3 separate regions of the Homo sapiens genome follow, and regions 2 and 3 are each linked to region 1. The links come from fine-mapping of genetic effects on gene expression. A gene starts in region 1. Each other region holds a variant in brackets. All regions are shown on one strand. Distances are from middle to middle.

Evidence for each region. PIP is the estimated chance that this variant, and not a neighbour inherited with it, causes the effect.
Region 2: its variant is fine-mapped to the expression of INPP5E in skeletal muscle (GTEx, PIP 0.96).
Region 3: its variant is fine-mapped to the expression of INPP5E in blood mononuclear cells (TOPMed, PIP above 0.99). The same link has a PIP of 0.9 or more in T cells.

The regions. Positions count from the first base shown.
Region 1 is chr9:136,437,425-136,442,639 of GRCh38, forward strand. It overlaps INPP5E (inositol polyphosphate-5-phosphatase E), which reads right to left and starts at 2,421. Exons shown (of 10, transcript NM_019892.6): 1 at 1,184-2,421. The coding sequence starts at 1,995. SEC16A (SEC16 homolog A, endoplasmic reticulum export factor) reads right to left here. Exons shown (of 32, transcript NM_014866.2): 32 at 2,681-4,399. The coding sequence ends at 4,331. RefSeq lists enhancers at 625-1,258, 1,200-1,309, 1,259-1,893, 1,894-2,527 and silencers at 1,600-2,089, 2,150-2,329, 2,380-2,579.
Region 2 is chr9:136,488,385-136,493,599 of GRCh38, forward strand. No RefSeq gene overlaps it. Among named protein-coding and RNA genes, the nearest start is that of C9orf163, 7.5 kb to the left of the region's middle. RefSeq lists a silencer at 477-526. The variant T/C (reference allele first, on the strand shown) is at 2,255.
Region 3 is chr9:136,405,997-136,411,181 of GRCh38, forward strand. ENTR1 (endosome associated trafficking regulator 1) reads right to left here and starts at 4,618. Exons shown (of 10, transcript NM_001039707.2): 1 at 4,332-4,618; 2 at 4,094-4,243; 3 at 3,003-3,071; 4 at 1,830-1,942; 5 at 1,149-1,565. The coding sequence starts at 4,401. It overlaps PMPCA (peptidase, mitochondrial processing subunit alpha), which reads left to right and starts at 4,662. Exons shown (of 13, transcript NM_015160.3): 1 at 4,662-4,743. The coding sequence starts at 4,673. RefSeq lists enhancers at 927-1,515, 3,721-3,880, 4,731-4,820, 4,851-4,900 and silencers at 4,241-4,290, 4,431-4,520. The variant C/A (reference allele first, on the strand shown) is at 2,601.

The sequences.
Region 1 (5,215 bases):
GAACACAGAGAGACAGGGAAGAGGCCACATAAAGACAGAGGCAGAGACTGGAGCATGCGGCCACAAGCCAAGGAACAAGTGGGGCCCCAGGAGCGGGAGGCAGCGGGAGGACCCTCCCCTGAGCCTCTGGAGAGAGGCTGCGTGGCCACACCTTGATTTTAGACTTCTGGCCTCTAGAACTGGGAGAGAGTCCAGCTCTGCTGTTGCAAGCCTCCCAGTCTGTGGTCATGAGTTACAACGGCCCCAGGACACCAACACAGAAACCACCTCACACCTCTCCCTTCTCACACCTGTCCTGCCTCCCGCCGCGGCTGACAGACAAGACTTGGGCACCATGGCAGTGGGGTGGGGGGAGGAAAAGAAGGGTGCAGGTGACTCTGCCAAGTCATAGTGGGAGCATCTCAGGACAGGCCCCCAGACTGAGACCCCAAGACAAGACCAGGCTTGGGAGAGGTCATGGGTTCAGCTGCAGTTCCTTCCAGCAACAGCTGGAGCCCACCAAAATGTTCCTCATGAGCAAGTGGCTAAACGAAAGTAGCCTCAACACATCTGGGGCCTCTTGCCGCAGAAAAAAACAAAGGGGGCAGGCCGGGCGCAGTGGCCCACGCCGGGAATCCCAGCACTTTGGGAGGCCGAGGCCAGGAGTTCGAGACCAGCCTCGCCAACACGGCGAAACCCCGCCCCTACTAAAAATACAAAATTTAGCTGGGTGTGGTGGCGGGCGCCTGTAATCCCAGATTCTCAGGAGGCTGCGGCAGGAGGATCCCTTGAACCCAGGAGGCAGAGGTTGCAGTGAGCCGGGATCGCGCCGCTGCACTCCAGCCTGGGCGACAGAGAGAGTAACAAACAAAAACAACCAAAGGGGCGGATCGTATACATTGACGACATTTCCCAAGACTAAACAAGAAAAAGCGCCAGATACGTAATTGTATGCAGGATGCCATCCTGTCTACCTTAACACAACGTCACGCCCACGAATGGTTCTGAAACGCACAGGAAAAGTTCTGGGAAGGGCGCTGCTGTGGGGTGGGGCTGGGAGATGGGGTGGCTGCGGGAGACCCGCTTCGTTCTTTCCGGTTAGGCATCTTAAACGCTGCTGATGGGAACGGTCTCACGAGGTTCCAGCAGCCTGAACACTACAACGAAGGCGGCGCGGGCGCTGCACCCGCCAGGCCCTCCCTACCTGCTGCGGACGTCCTTGCTGCGGATGGGCGCCAGGAGGCTGAAGGAGGATTTGGCCGAGCGAAGGGAACAGTCGTCGCAGGCCAGGGGGCTCCGCGGCCGGCCGGGGCCCAGGCTGCTGTGGGCCCGCACCAGGAGCGGCTGCGCGCGGAGCTTGTAGTCTGCAAGATCCGAGTCGACCTTGTTTGCTGTCCTCAGGGAGTCGGAGGCGATGTCCAGGCTCAGGGCAGGCGGTGGGCGCGGGGGCAGCAGGCTGGGCAGCCTGGGCGAGCTCCCCGCCACGGCGGCGTCTCTGTGCGGGAGGTTCGGGGAGCTGCTGGCCACCCCAGAGAGAGGGTTACCCCCCGAGGACGGGCTCCCTCTCTCACTGCTCAGGACCCCGCGGGACTTGGGGATTTCCTGCAAGGAGGTGCTCAGGCAGGGCGGGGAGCAGCTGTGGGCGGGGGCCCCGGGGCCCTCGCTCTGCACTGAGCCCCTGGAGGGACTGGTCCCATTCCGGGCTTCCAGGTCCTCCTGGCTGCCTCGAAAACGCCTCCTCCTCCAGCCCTTGTCGTCCAGGGACAGGGCTCGCTCCAGTCGAGGCCTGGCGGGGGGCCGCGGGGCGATGGGTGCTGCTCGGGCTGGCGGGTCCTCGCCGCTGGGCGTGGCCGGAGTGCTGCAGGCAAGCGCGGGGCTCTCGGAGCCCGGAGCATCGGGTGGGGACCCCGCGCGCTGGGCCGGCGGAGCGCCGGGAAGCTGTCCTTGGAGCGTCCTCCCTTCCGGCGGCTGCGGGGCCGGCTCGGAGGGCCGCAGATTCTCCGCCTTGGACGGCATGGACGGTCTCTCCCGGGGCAGGCCTCGGCGCGAGGCCGCAGGCAGCGCGAGGGGTCACGGGTGCCGGGTCCGGGGTCGCCGGCGCAGCGAGGAGCAGAAACGCCGCTGCGGCTCCCGCTTGGGCCGGGGATGGTCGCGGAGGGGCGGGGGCGGCTGCCGCATGGCCCGGGCCCCGAGTCCCGCCAGCCCCTCGGGGCTCCCAGACGCCGTTCCCAGGGCGGTCCGCAGGCAAGGCCTGGGGGAACAGGCGGCTGGGCGCCTGTCGCGGGGGAGGTTCGACCCCGACGGGGACGCCGCTCGGGGAGAGGGGTGGGAAGCGGGCACCCCTGGCTGGGCTCGCAGACTCCGAAGTCGACCCGGTACTCGCGGAGGCCCGGCCGCCCAGAAGCGGAGTCAGCCCGGCCGGGACCCAGCAACCGCCGCCGCGGGGCCGCGCCCGGTCCCCGCCCCGCGCCCCGGCCCCGCCCACAGCGGCCCCTGGCGGCCGGAGGACTGCGCCGCACCGGACCCGGACGGGTCTCCCACGCCCCTCCCAACCCGGCAGCCCCGCAGTCCGGCAGGTCCCAGCGAGGCAGGTGCAGGTCCCCGGAGAGGACCTGGGTGCGGTCCAGGACAGCGCCGAGGCCTGCGGACACCTGCACTCACTCGCTTCCAGCAAACCAAAGGGAACCACAGGTGAAGGTGCTTGAAGGAGCGCAAAATATTTTATTCAACAATTTGCAATGTAACAATTCTCATTTAGGAAAAATAGCCGCTCCCGCCTGGAGGAAGCTTCTTGAATCAAAAGTCGTGGCAGTCGACCCCAGAACAGCGGGCAGAGCCGACCGGAAGAGGTCCCAGGATTCACACGAGCTGACCGAGGGACAGAGAGGGCTGCCCCGTCACAGGGACTGGCCTTTCTCCAAGTGACAAGGACAAATGGATCCAGCGGGACACGCCTGTGGAACATTTTGGAAAACATCCTGGGTGGTCTGGGCTAAATGATCAAGTGAAACAGAAAGCCAGGAAGGATCTGTGCTAATTCCACATTCTACAATTTCTACACTTAAATTTAAAACACCAAACAGTTTGTATTCCTCCAGCAGAACCTACAGAAATTATCTACTGATTTTTATTAGTATTTAAATCTTTTCTTCAGTCTCTTTAGACTTGACAAGAATACGAAGAGTTTCAGAACAGTCAGAGAAGCCTTAAAGCTTTGCATCAGTGAGAGGAGGCCCGTCTCTGAGTTGAACAGGGTTGAGTCCACCAGGAGCTACTCAAAGTCTCAGTGTGGCAAAACTCGGGGCAGAAATACTAAGTTCCAGAGCTGCTGTCAAGAAACTGTGTTAAGATACTCTCCCCAAGTGCTACCAACCTCTGAACCAACGTCCCCCAGGGGAGAAAGTGGGTCATGTGGATTGTACCACGAAAAGTGCTCACGGAAAGTGCAGCCTTTTAGAGAAGTGCATCCAGCTTCCTTAACAGTGAGTCTAACCGTGCTCCTACACACGAAATGAAGCCCAAATCAAACATCACACGGTCAGTTTTCAACCTGGATGACCACCCTGAGCCATCATGTCAGACAGCCGGCTCTCTGGGGCTCCTTCCCAGTGACTGGGCCACACGGTGGGCAGTCCCCAGCGCTTTGGGTACACAAAATCACCCATGGTCCTCATCAGGCCACAGAAAGTAAAGTGAGGCTGGAAGCGTCTTTGCAACAGGAAAGAAATTCACTGCAGTAACTAAGGCCTCTCTCAAAAACCGTGAACTAATGCCGAAGGAACCCCACGGCTCCTCGGAGGCGCTGATTGAGAACACAGCGCCCTCCACTCATTCAGCCAGGTTCAAACACGGCGAGGGCCCAGATGGTGCAGAGCAGGGGTTGGGGTCTGCCTCAGTCACCCTCTCTTTGCTCCCAGCACCTTAAAGGAAGCGCGGGACTCACTGGGCAGTGACTCACAGCTGGGCTTGGAGAGGCCCTGGTTACTACCGACCATGTGGCTCTCCTGTGGCAGAGACAGCTCCGGCTTCAATGAATGAACATTCTTAAATGACCAGGAATACTATATCCTTAAATCATCCTAAATGACTAAGAAAGTCACATCATTCTTTTCGGCAAACAATTCTGAGTCAAAGATTCAGTCTTTCCATCCAGAATCTGAAAGGATGGTGGAATTAATTTTCAAAATAATTCATTACGATGGGCGGTGAGGAGGGAGGCACAGTGTGCGACCAGCTCTGAGTCACTGCTGTGTCTCCCTGGGGGCGGGACGGAGATCGCGGAGGTCGGTCGGGTTCTTCGGGGAGAACAGCAGCGTCAGGGCTCCAAGTGCAAGTTCACAGCAGGGCAAGCCTAGTTCAGCACCAGGTGCTTCCTCTGGCCAATCCTCCCTAGCCTTGAGCTCCCGGAGGTGGCGCAGGCCTGGAATGAAATCAACAGCATGACCTCTGCATGCCTGCCCCCAGGGTGAGCAGTGCTCGGCTGCAGCGTGGCAGGGGCTGGTCCACATAATGAACCACACGGGCCATTGGCGCTGACAAGCTGAAGGCTTCGTTTTTGTTTCCAAAAGCCTCTGGAAACCGACAAGTCAGTGCCAAGTCCTGGGCTCCCTTGAAAGCACTGTATCCTTAACCATCAATGTTTACTGTGAGGGTGGCCAGGAGGTGCCGTGGTTTCATCAGGGCCATGAGACCTGGAGCTGCTCTGCAGAGCCAGCCTGGCTGTCCAGAGTCCAGGGACAAGTGGTGGCCAGGCCTGGCCTACTGCATGGGACGCGGGGACCTCAGTTGCAGACAGCTGGCCAATGCAGGCATCCACTCTTGCTCCCTCGCAAAGCCTCATGGAGGGGAAAGCCAAGGAATTTTTGTAAAGGCACTAACCACATGGTAAAGGGAGCAGGACAATACCAAAATCGACTAGTCTGGATGCTGAAAAGCAGGTGACAGCCAGGGGCCAGCTTGGGGGCAGTGGTCCTGGGAGCCTCGGCCTCGTTTGTAGAGGACCAGGGCAGGAGTGCTGGGCCCCAGCCCAGGAAGCCTGCAGTCAAGAGTGTGTGAGGCTGTGAGGGCAGGCTGGGGTGACAATGGGGCTGAATCCCAAGAGGCCCCAGACCTTGGACCCCGCTCAGCTCCCCTACACTGGCAGCCAGTCTATACTCCACAGGCAAGGGAGAGGGGAGGAGAGACGAGGCTGAGGGAGGGAAACCACAGGAAACATTCTAGAACACTCCCCAGCTGA
Region 2 (5,215 bases), 51 kb after region 1:
GAAGAGCTCCAGTATTCGATGCCAGGCCAGTCGTGGCATTAACTCCTGGCAAAGTATCCGATGCCAGGCTGGCCATGGTATTGACTCCTGGCAAAGTGGCCCAACAACCCCCTTCTCCCCTCTGAGCAGCCGTCTCCCTGTCTGAAAAGTCACCAGGCTGGATGGCATCAACTCTACAGGCCTTCCTGCTCCTCTGAGGGCAGGTGACTCCTCGTGGTTTGACACGGACCGGGAATCACATAGCCCTGGCTCAGTGAATGGGCGAACTTGGCTAAGTCGCCTAACCTCTTTGAGCCCCAGCTTCCTCATGTGTAAAACAGGATAATAGCAGTGTCGCGGGGGATGGCCCTGGGCGTGGGGTGAGGGCCATTTCTGCCCTGTGGTCACTCGGGAGGACCTGTGGGGCGCTGGCAGAGCAGTGCCACCAGGGGGAGGCAGAGAGCCGCCTCTGAGTCGGCCAAAGTAACAGGTGCACGCTTGCCAGGTGAGGTTGCTCCCATCTGTCGTCTCAGCATTTTGGGAGGCCAAAGTGGGAGGATCACTTGAACCTAGGGGTTTGAGACCAGCCTGGGCAACATAGCAAGATTCCATCTCCACAAAAAGAAAAAAAAGTAAAGTTATACACTTTTCTTTTTTTTTTTTGAGACCGAGTCTCACTGTATCCCCCAGGCTGGAGTGCAGTGGTGCAATCTCAGCTCACTGCAACCTCCTCCTTCCGAATTCAAGCAATTCTCCTGCCTCAGCCCCCCCAAGTAGCTGAGATTCTAGGTGCCCACCATGGTGCCCAGCTAATTTTTGTATTTTTAGTGGAGAGGGGGGTTTCACCAGTTGACCAGGCTGGTGTGGAACTCCTGACCACAGGTGATCCTCTCGCCTCGGCCTCCCGAAGTGCTGGGATGACAGGTGTGAGCCACCACGCCTGGCCGTAGTTATAACTTTTCTAAGGTTCATTTTATTAAATGGAAAAATGCCAAACAGAACGACAAAGGCTGTGGTAGAATGTGCACGTTTGTGTGGACCCAGGGCACATTTTCACCAGAAAATCCCGTGCGATAGAGTGGAAGATATACCAAAAGCCACAGCAAATATCACGCGTGACTCCGCAGAAAATTATAGATTCCTAACAAACACTGAGAGTGTGTCCTGTGCTGTAAGGTCCAGGGATGGGCCACAAGTTCAAGGTTGTGTGAAGAACAACGGAAACCCACCTCTGAGGCCCTGGGCACCTGGCACCTGTCGTGTTGGGCATGAATAAAGCTTCGCAGCTCAGTCCTGCAATCTCCATGAGCCTAGACTTGTCCATCTTAAAATGTAGACGGTTAGGACACCTGCTGAAGGGGCCGCCAGGCTTAACTGTGCCAACACGGCATGCAGGTGGAGAACAAAGAATGCGATTGAAAACCTCCTAACGATAACAAGAGCTGTTCCCTTTCTGAGCCCTCACCCCATGCCCAGCGTGCACCAGCAGCTCACCATCGCAGGCCCAGGGCCAGCACCCAGGTCCCCACTTGACCCACGAGGACACTGAGGTACAGCAACAGCCAGGACAGCAGCCGCCAGGTGGAAAGCAAAGACACAAAGCAGCCAGATCGGGAGTCACGTCGGGGCAGGCGACTGAGGCGCCACCCAGCCACCTTCAAGATGCAGATTGAAGAACAGCCTTTCCCAAAGCTCGCTCACTCACTGACCCTGCGTCTTCGTCTGCAAAGCCTGAGTAACGTGGGAGGCCCTGCAACGCCCCCTCTGAGAGACCTCCACTAACGCCAGCACTTTTTTTTTTTTTTTTTTTTTTTTTTTTTTTTTTTGTGAGAGTGTCTTGCTCTGTCGCCCAGGCTGGAGTGCAGAGGCATGATCTCTGCTCACTGCAAGCTCCGCCTCCCAGGTTCACGCCATTCTCCTGCCTCAGCCTCCCAAGTAGCTAGGACTACAGGCGCCTGCCACCACGCCCGGCTAATTTTTTGTATTTTTTAGTAGAGACGGGGTTTCACCGTGTTAGCCAGGATGGTCTCAATCTCCTGACCTTGTGATCCACCCGCCTCAGCCTCCCAAAGTGCTGGGATTACAGGCGTGAGCCACCACGCCTGGCCAACGCCAGCACTTTCAACGCACCGGGACCAAGCTGGACCCGGTTTTGTTTTGAAACACTTTTACTTTTGCAGACGAATACGTCGGTGTCCCACCAGGAACCGCTGCTGGTGGATGCTCACCACGGGAAACAGCCGCGTGACGCTCCCCCTTGTCTGCCTCTGCCCAG[T/C]GCTGCCCCCTCCAGCAGAGCTCCTCATGTGTGGTTCGTGGATTTGGGTCCACGATGAGATAAGGAGCCACACAGAACGAAATCAGTCCACCGCTGAGCACGCAGTTGAGCCCCACGGACACCCTTTGCAAGTGAGACTTTTGGGATGAAGGCAGCACAGGCCTGTCGATCCCTGGAGCAGCCCGGGGGCTACGGCACCGTGCTTCCCTCTTGGATGGAGGCAGCCCTGCCTGCCGGGGGCCTGATTTGTGGGCCCTGATGAGTTGGTGCCTCCGGGCTCTTGGGACCCTCCTTTGCTCTATCCAGAGGGACGCAGCGCCACACTCGGGGTTCACGCCGGCAGCGGCGTGGAGTGAGTCACCAGGCTGAAGATACACTTGGTGTTTTCCTGCGCTGGGTGGAACTGTCTGGAGCCCCCTTGGCATCCTGCTGAAGAGTCCGAATCTGGACGTGAGCCTCCTGGAGATACTGAACACCTTTTAAAGTGTGGCCAGGCCCAATCTAGGGTGCTGTGAGTGTACTGTACATCCTGGGTTTCAAAGACACAGTACCAAAAACAAACAAACAAAAAGAATATAAAACATCTCATTCACGGCCGGGCGTGGTGGCTTACGCCTATAATCCCAGCACTTTGGGAGGCCGAGGTGGGCCGATCACGAGGTCAAGAGATCAAGACCAGCCTGGCCAACATGGTGAAACCCCCTCTCTACTAAAAATACAAAAATTAGCTGGGCGTGGTGGCAGGTGCCTGTAATCCCAGCTACTCGGGAGGCTGAGGCAGGAGAATCGCTTGAACCCGGGAGGCGGAAGTTGCAGTGAGCTGAGATCGCACCACTGCACTCCAGCCTGGGTGACAGAGGGAGACTCTGTCTCAAAAAACAAAAAACAACAAAAAAAAACTCATTCACTTTTTATGTTGTGTTAAAATAATATTTTTGATATATTGGATTAACTAAGCTGTAGTATTAATATACACTTTGCCTGTTTCTTTTTACCTTTTTAATGTGGCTACTGAAATATTTAAAGTTGCATATGTGGCCAGGCGCAGTGGCCCACACCTGTAATCCCAGCACTCTGGGAGGCCAAGGTGAGGAGAGGACTGCATGAGCTCAGGAGTTCGAGACCAACCTGGGCAACAAAGTGAGACCCCATCTCTGCAAAAAATAACAAAAAAATTGGGTGGGTGAGGTGGTGTGCACCTGTAATCCCAGCTGCTAGAGAGACCAAGGTGGGAGGATCACCTGGGCCCAGGAGGTTGAGGCTGCAATAAGCTATCATGGCACCACTGCACTCCAGCCTGGGTGACAGAGCAAGACCCTGTCTCAAAAACTTTTTTTAATTAAAAAAAAAAAATAACATATTGAGGTGAGACTCACAGAACCTAAAATTAACCACTTTAAAGTGTACGAGTTAGGCCAGGTGCAGTGGCTCACGCCTGTAACCTCAGCACTTTAAGAGGCCGAGGCGGGTGGATCACTTGAGATCAGGAGTTTGAAACCAGCCTGGCCAACATGGTGAAACCCAATCTCTACTAAAAATACAAAAAAATTAGCCGGGTGTGGTGGTAGGGGCCTGTAATCCCAGTTACTTTGGAGGCTGAGGCAGGAGAATCACTTGAACACAGAGGCGGAGGTTGCAGTGAGCCAAGATCACGCCACCACATTCCAGCCTGGGTGACAGAGCGAGACTCCGTCTCAAAAAAAAAAAAAAAAAGTGTCCGCGTTATTGGCATTTAGTGCACTCGAAGGGCTGTGCACGCACCACCTCTCCCTGGGCCCAGAACATTTGCGTCACTCCAAAGTAAAACCCCGGGCCGTCTTCATCCACGTCCCTACAAAGGACATGAACTCATCATTTTTTATGGCTGCATAGTATTCCATGGTATATATGTGCCACATTTTCTTAATCTAGTCTATCATTGTTGGACATTTGGGTTGGTTCCAAGTCTTTGCTATTGTGAACAGTGCCACAATAAACTAAAACTTAAAGTATAAAAACAAAACAAAACAAAAAAAAACCCCGGGCCGTTTAGCAGCCACTCCCCTTTCCTCCTCCCCCCGGCTCTGGGAACCATCAATCTACTTTCTGTCTCCATGGGTTCGGTGACCACAGGCACCCCATAGAAATGGAGTCACTGCACCTGCGGCCCTTTGCGGCCGGCACCCTTCACTGAGCACCGTGCTTCCAAGGCTTGTCCGCATGGTGGGTGTCAGCGCCTCCTTTTCTACGGTGGAATCATATTCCCTCGTGCGCATTCGTCAGGGTTCTTCCGGCAAGCGGAGCCCATAAGACGTGCCACTGGAGAGGTTATTGCAGGGAATTGGCCACACGACCTCGAGGCCTGCAGTTCCCAGGGTCTGCAGTTGCAGGCAGGAGGCCTGATGGCGTTGCGAGTCCGAAGGCCGGTGGGCTCCAGGCCCAGGAAGAGCCCACGTTTTCAGTCCAAGTCTGAAGGCAGGAAAAGACCAATGTCCAGTGCAAGCGGTTGGGTGGGAGGACCCCTGGCACTCGGCCTATTGTTCTCCCCAGGCCTCAGCGGACCGCACGGGGCCCACCCACACTGGGGAGGGCGGACTGCCTTACCCGGGCTGTGGATGCAAATGCGAACCTCATCCAGAACACCTCAGAGACACACTCCGTTTGGCGAAATGGCCCGGCCAAGCTGACACTAAGGTTCACCGTCACAGCAGACGGTTTTGCTGACCCGTCGTTGGCAGTGGACGCTCAGGCTGTCTGTGGCTGTACTGAGTGATGCCGGGACAGCAAGTGGCCACGTGCGTTTGTTTGAGTCCCTGTTTTCACTTCTTTCGGACAGACCCCCAGGAGTGGAATTTCAGGGTGCTGGGAGTTTTATGGGCAGGACTCCGGCTGGGTCACCCCCTTTGAAGACAAGAGTCAGGCCACTCACTGCAGTTCCACGGTGGCCCCTCCTGGTCCTGGTGCCCAGCGCTGGCTGGCAGA
Region 3 (5,185 bases), 31 kb before region 1:
CTTATTAGAAAGTCAGCATGTCTGGCTCAAAAGGGCGTGTGCTTCTGCGGTGTGGCTCCAGAGCCTCCTGATAAGCAGAGATGCTGGGTCAGTGCAGCATCCACCTGCAGCCACTACAGAGGGAGACCACAGACGGAGGCAGGCACTTTTCAAAGACCTGTGGTCACAGATGCCAGTTAATTTTACTCAGAGGCCGGGGGCAGTGGCTCGCGCCTGTAATCCCAGCACTTTGGGAGGCCGAGGTGGGCGGATCACAAGGTCAGGAGTTTGAGACCAGCCTGGCCAACACGGTGAAACCCCCGTCTCTACTAAAAATACAAAAATTAGCCAGCAGTGGTGGCGGGCACCTGTAGTCCTAACTACTCGGGTGGCTGAAGCAGGAGAATCACTTGAACTCGGGAGGCGGAGGTTGCAGTGAGCCGAGATCGTGCCACTCCACTCCAGCATGAGCAACAGAGTGAGACACTGTCTCAGGAAGAAAATAATTTTTCTTTTTTTTGAAACAGAGTTTCGCCCGTCGCCTAGGCTGGAGTACAGTGGCGTGACCTCGGCTCACCGCAACCTCCGCCTCCCGGGTTCAAGCGATTCTCCTGCCTCAGCCTCCCAAGTAGCTGGGACTACAGGCGCCTGCCGCCACGCCCAGCTAATTTTTGTATTTTCAGTAGAGACAGGGTTTCACCATGTTGGCCAGGCTGGTCTCAAACTGCTGACCTCAGGTGATCCACCCACCTCGGCCTCCCAAAGTGCTGAGATTACAGGCGTGAGCCACGGCGCCCAGCTAAAAAATTTTTTTTTTTATTCAGAGCTTATAACCTTTTAGGTGATTATAATTTTTTAAAAATTTTCCTCCTCTTGGAATACTTAGCAAGCTGGCGACTGCAGCCTGCCTTTACTGAGGGTACAGCCCTGTAAGTGCCCAACTGCATCCAATTCACAGCTTCTAGCTCACCAGTCCTCTTTAGCCGGTTCTATTCCCACGTGTAACCAGAAGCAAAGTCAAAGGGAAAGTGGATAGCAGGCTGTCACGCAAATCGCCTTGTCCTGGAAATCAAACCAGGCCACCCAAGAGGTAGGATGGCTCCAGGTTCTCCCCGGGAGAAGCCGCTCGGACAGGCGCTGTGCCAGAGGGCGCCGTGAGGCTCACTTACTGCGTCGTAACTTATCTGCAGCGTCCGCAGGTGCCTGTCTCCCAGAGACTCTCCATGAACCGCAAAGTCTGCGCTAGGACTCCCTGCCGGAGAGGCCGGAGACACGCGAGAATCAGTGTCACTCAACGCCCACGAGGGCAGAGACTCAGGCCCTGCCAGCTCCGACGGGGTGGAGAAAAAGGAAAGGTATGTGCTGCAGGGCGACGTGCCGGCAGGGACCCTCTCGGGGTGAGTCTGCTCGATGGCGGACGGCAGGTAGGCCCCACTCCATCCGGTGTCCTCATCCTCCTCCTCATCCAGGAGGTCACCAGCCCCTGTCGGATCCTCGAAAAATGGCTGCTGATACTCCAGGCCATACCCGCCGGTTTGGGAGGGTGGGGAGTTGTGGTCAAGTCCCAGGGAATGCCTCGAGGCTTCCTAAAAAAAAAAAAAAAAAAAAAACAATGGAGGCCATGCTTCTGACTCGGAGCGCATCTTCCTTTCTGTGTTCTGCCTCGCAACAAGAAGAAAGGCCCAATCTCTCTACCGGAAGGAGCCCAGCAGCTTCTGAGCCCAGAGCTGCTCCCCAGCACTGACGCCTGCCTGCTCTGCCACACTCATGCACGATTCCTCCAAAGGAGGCTGCAGAGGCCGGAACAGAAACGTCCCACAGAGCCATCGCCCACAGTGCCGTGGATTTACCTTTGCATAAATTCTGCTGGCCGGATCCTCTTTCGAGAGGCCGAGGTTCTTGGTCTTCAGAAACTCTCTAAAAGAGAATGGATTTGCCTCTTCCAGATCTTCAAATCTGTCATCTGAAATAACAGACATCACAAATGCATAAAGTCTACTGAAGAGCGTTGAAAGGGAACCTTCCTGTTCACCTGTCTTTCCAGAGCATGGCCACATGTGAGATCGGGCAGCCACGCTTGTCATTCTACCATGACTCAGGCAGCACTAGGAAGTGTGAAGGTGGCTGAAGGTGGGCAGTGACACAGACGTGCGTCTGCATTTGCAATCTTCTCCTTCCACCCCTCGGCCCCTGCTCCCACACTGTGCTGCTCACTAAAGCTCCCCTGGGGAGCTTTAAAACGACCCAAGCCACTCCACTGCACACACCCAGCTCCCTGGTGTGAGGTCAACCTGTGCTAGGAGCTCTCAAAGCTCCTCAGGTGGCCAGGTGTGGTGGCTCACGCCTGTACCCCAGCACTGTGGGAGGTCAAGGCGGGCGGATCACGAGGTCAGGAGACTGAGACCATCCTGGCTAACACGGTGAAACCTCATCTCTACTAAAAATACAAAAAATTAGCCAGGCGTGGTGGTGAGCGCCTGTAGTCCCAGCTACTCGGGAGGCTGAGGCAGGAGAATGGCGTGAACCTGGGAGGTGGAGCTTGCAGTGAGCCGAGATCGTGCCACTGTACTCCAGCCTGGGCGACAGAGCGAGACTCTGTCTCAAAAAACAACAACAACAAC[C/A]AGCTCCTCAGGTGCTGCAACGCTGGGGACCCAGTGCCCCCTGACCCTCTTCCCGACTTTCCTACCTAGGTAGCCTAAATAACGCCCACTTTTCCCTTCTCCCTCTTGCCACCGCCTTCCCACCCTCCGGGGACTTAAGCAGCCACACTCGACCCTCCCAGCTGTGAGCCCCATGTAAAGCTGGCTCCTGTGGCCCCAGCCCCCCAGGTGGGGCTTCCCCGCTCCCTGATGTCACCTCGCTGCTACTCTAGGATCAAGACTGAACCCTTGAAATCCCACCCCCACCTGCTCTTTTGGGCTCCAGCTACACCACATAGCCAGTCACATTGACAGTCCCACCAGACACGTGCCTGGCACTGTGTTGGATGGAGACAAGAAGAAAAGGTTGCTGAACTACTCTACCTCCAAAATGTGTCCCGTGGGCTCCTGACGGGCTCTGCTTAGAACATTTCCCCTTTCCATAGCCAAAATCTGCAAAGAAACAATGTCACCCACCATGCTGGCAGGAAGTCTTTATGACCTCACATTTGGTTTTTTTCTTTTGCACATGGAGTCTCCACTGCAGTGGTTCTCACAGTCTAGAGAACTTTTTTTTTTTTTTTGAGACGGAGTCTTGCTCTGTCGCCCAAGCTGGAGTGCAGTGGTGCGATCTCGGCTCCCTGCAAGCTCCGCCTCCTGGGTTCACGCCATTCTCCTGCCTCATCCTCCCGAGTAGCTGGGACTACAGGCACCTGCCACCACGCCCGGCTAATTTTTTTGTATTTTTTGTAGAGACGGGTTTTCACCCTGTTAGCCAGGATGGTCTCAATCTCCTGACCTCATGATCCGCCTGCCTCGGCCTCCCAAAGTGCTGGGATTACAGGCGTAAGCCACTGCGCCCGGTCAGCCGAGAAAACTTTAAAAAAAACACAAGCTCCCAGACTTGTGACCCTGGAGATGGCCTGACTTGCAGACTGGCCCTGGTGTCCGTGGTCTGAAAGCGGCTCCTCAGCAGATTTTGAAGCCCAGCCGGGGCAAGCGCGTCCTCTTGTCTTGTGACAACCCCCGAATGTCCTCAGATCCTGGCATAACCACACAAACACTCCTGCACACCCCGGGCACCCAGCAGCACTTCTGCTTGGGTAGAACGAGGACGAACCAGATCTGGCCACTGCCCGGCTGTGGAGGCAGATGGAATGCTCCAGCTCGGTTTCCAATCACTGCCCACTAGGTGAAGGCACCCCGACTCCAGCCCCACGAGGAAAGCGGGCGGGCTCCTGTGCTCCCCGGGCACTAACCATCCTGTACTGGAACTGTCTGTCTTGGGGGAGGTCTCCCCGCAACCAGACTGTGAGCTCCTAGCAGGGGACTCCGCCTTTGAATTCCGAGTGCCTGGCACGCAGTGAGCGCTCTGCACATTGATGGGTCAATGGACGAGCTCGTGCTGCAGCGGAGGTGCCACACGTGGCGCGGGAACTGGAAGCGTCCCCGGGGCCGGCGCCCTCGTCTCTCACCTGTGTCTCCCACGGAAGCCAGCACCGGGCTGGGCACATAGCACATAAAGGCCGGCCGAATGCCGAAGAAGGGGGAGTCCAGGTCCCTGCCATGGGGGCGCTCACAATTTAGCTGGGGGAGACAAGACCGGCGCTCATAGAACGCTGGAGCTGGAAGCAACGACAACAGCGACTTTACTGCGTGCCGGGGCGGCCGCCGCCCACCTGGACCGCTGGACTCGGCCCCTGCCCCGCTCACCGTCGGGAATGGCGAGGCTCCGGGCTCGGGACAGCGGGGTGGCGCCCGGGCGGCGCTGGTAGCCCGACATCGCCGCCGGCCCGGCGGGGCACGACCTGCCTAGCCCGGCAGCGGCGGCTCCATGGCCCCGGCTCCGCCCGTGCCGCGGCCCGCGTCGCCCGCCCCCGTCGCCCGCCCCCGTCGCCCGCCGCTCGGCCGCCCCCGCGCCTCCGAGCCTCTCGCCGCTGCTTCCGCTCCGAGCACCGAAAGCGCGTGCCTGAACGCCTTGGGCCGTCGGCGAGGGGGAGGGGAAGCCGTGGGCGGAAGCGGAAGTGACGACTGAAGCGGGGCGGAGACGCAAGATGGCGGCTGTGGTGCTGGCGGCGACGCGGTTGCTGCGGGGCTCGGGTTCTTGGGGCTGTTCGCGGCTGAGGTGAGCCAAAGGCGAACCAGGCTTCGGCCTGGGGCGGGGGCGGCTCGAGTCTTTCTGGACGCTCCGTCTTCGGTTTCTACAGGTGACATGGCGCCCGTGGGACGGGCTCGCACTTCGGGACACTGGTGTCCCCGAGGCGACGGGGGCCCTGCCTTGCTTTGCGCCTCGAGCCCGGGGACGCAGTCCCATCTGTCTCTCCTCTCCCCGGCTGCTGGGTCCTCTCCCCCCCTCACTTCCCGGGTCGACGGGCCTTCTCCGAGGCCATGCCTCATATTTGCCCCCGCGCTTCACCTACCGCGTGCTCCTTCAGGAGGCTGAGCCGGTGGGGGCCCAGCTCTGTTAGACCCGCAGGGTTCTGACACCAGGGTCCAGGCTCTCGGTTGCTGCGGTCTGTCCGTTGATCTCTGACGTTTAAGAACCCTTTCCGTACCCACCGCTCCTC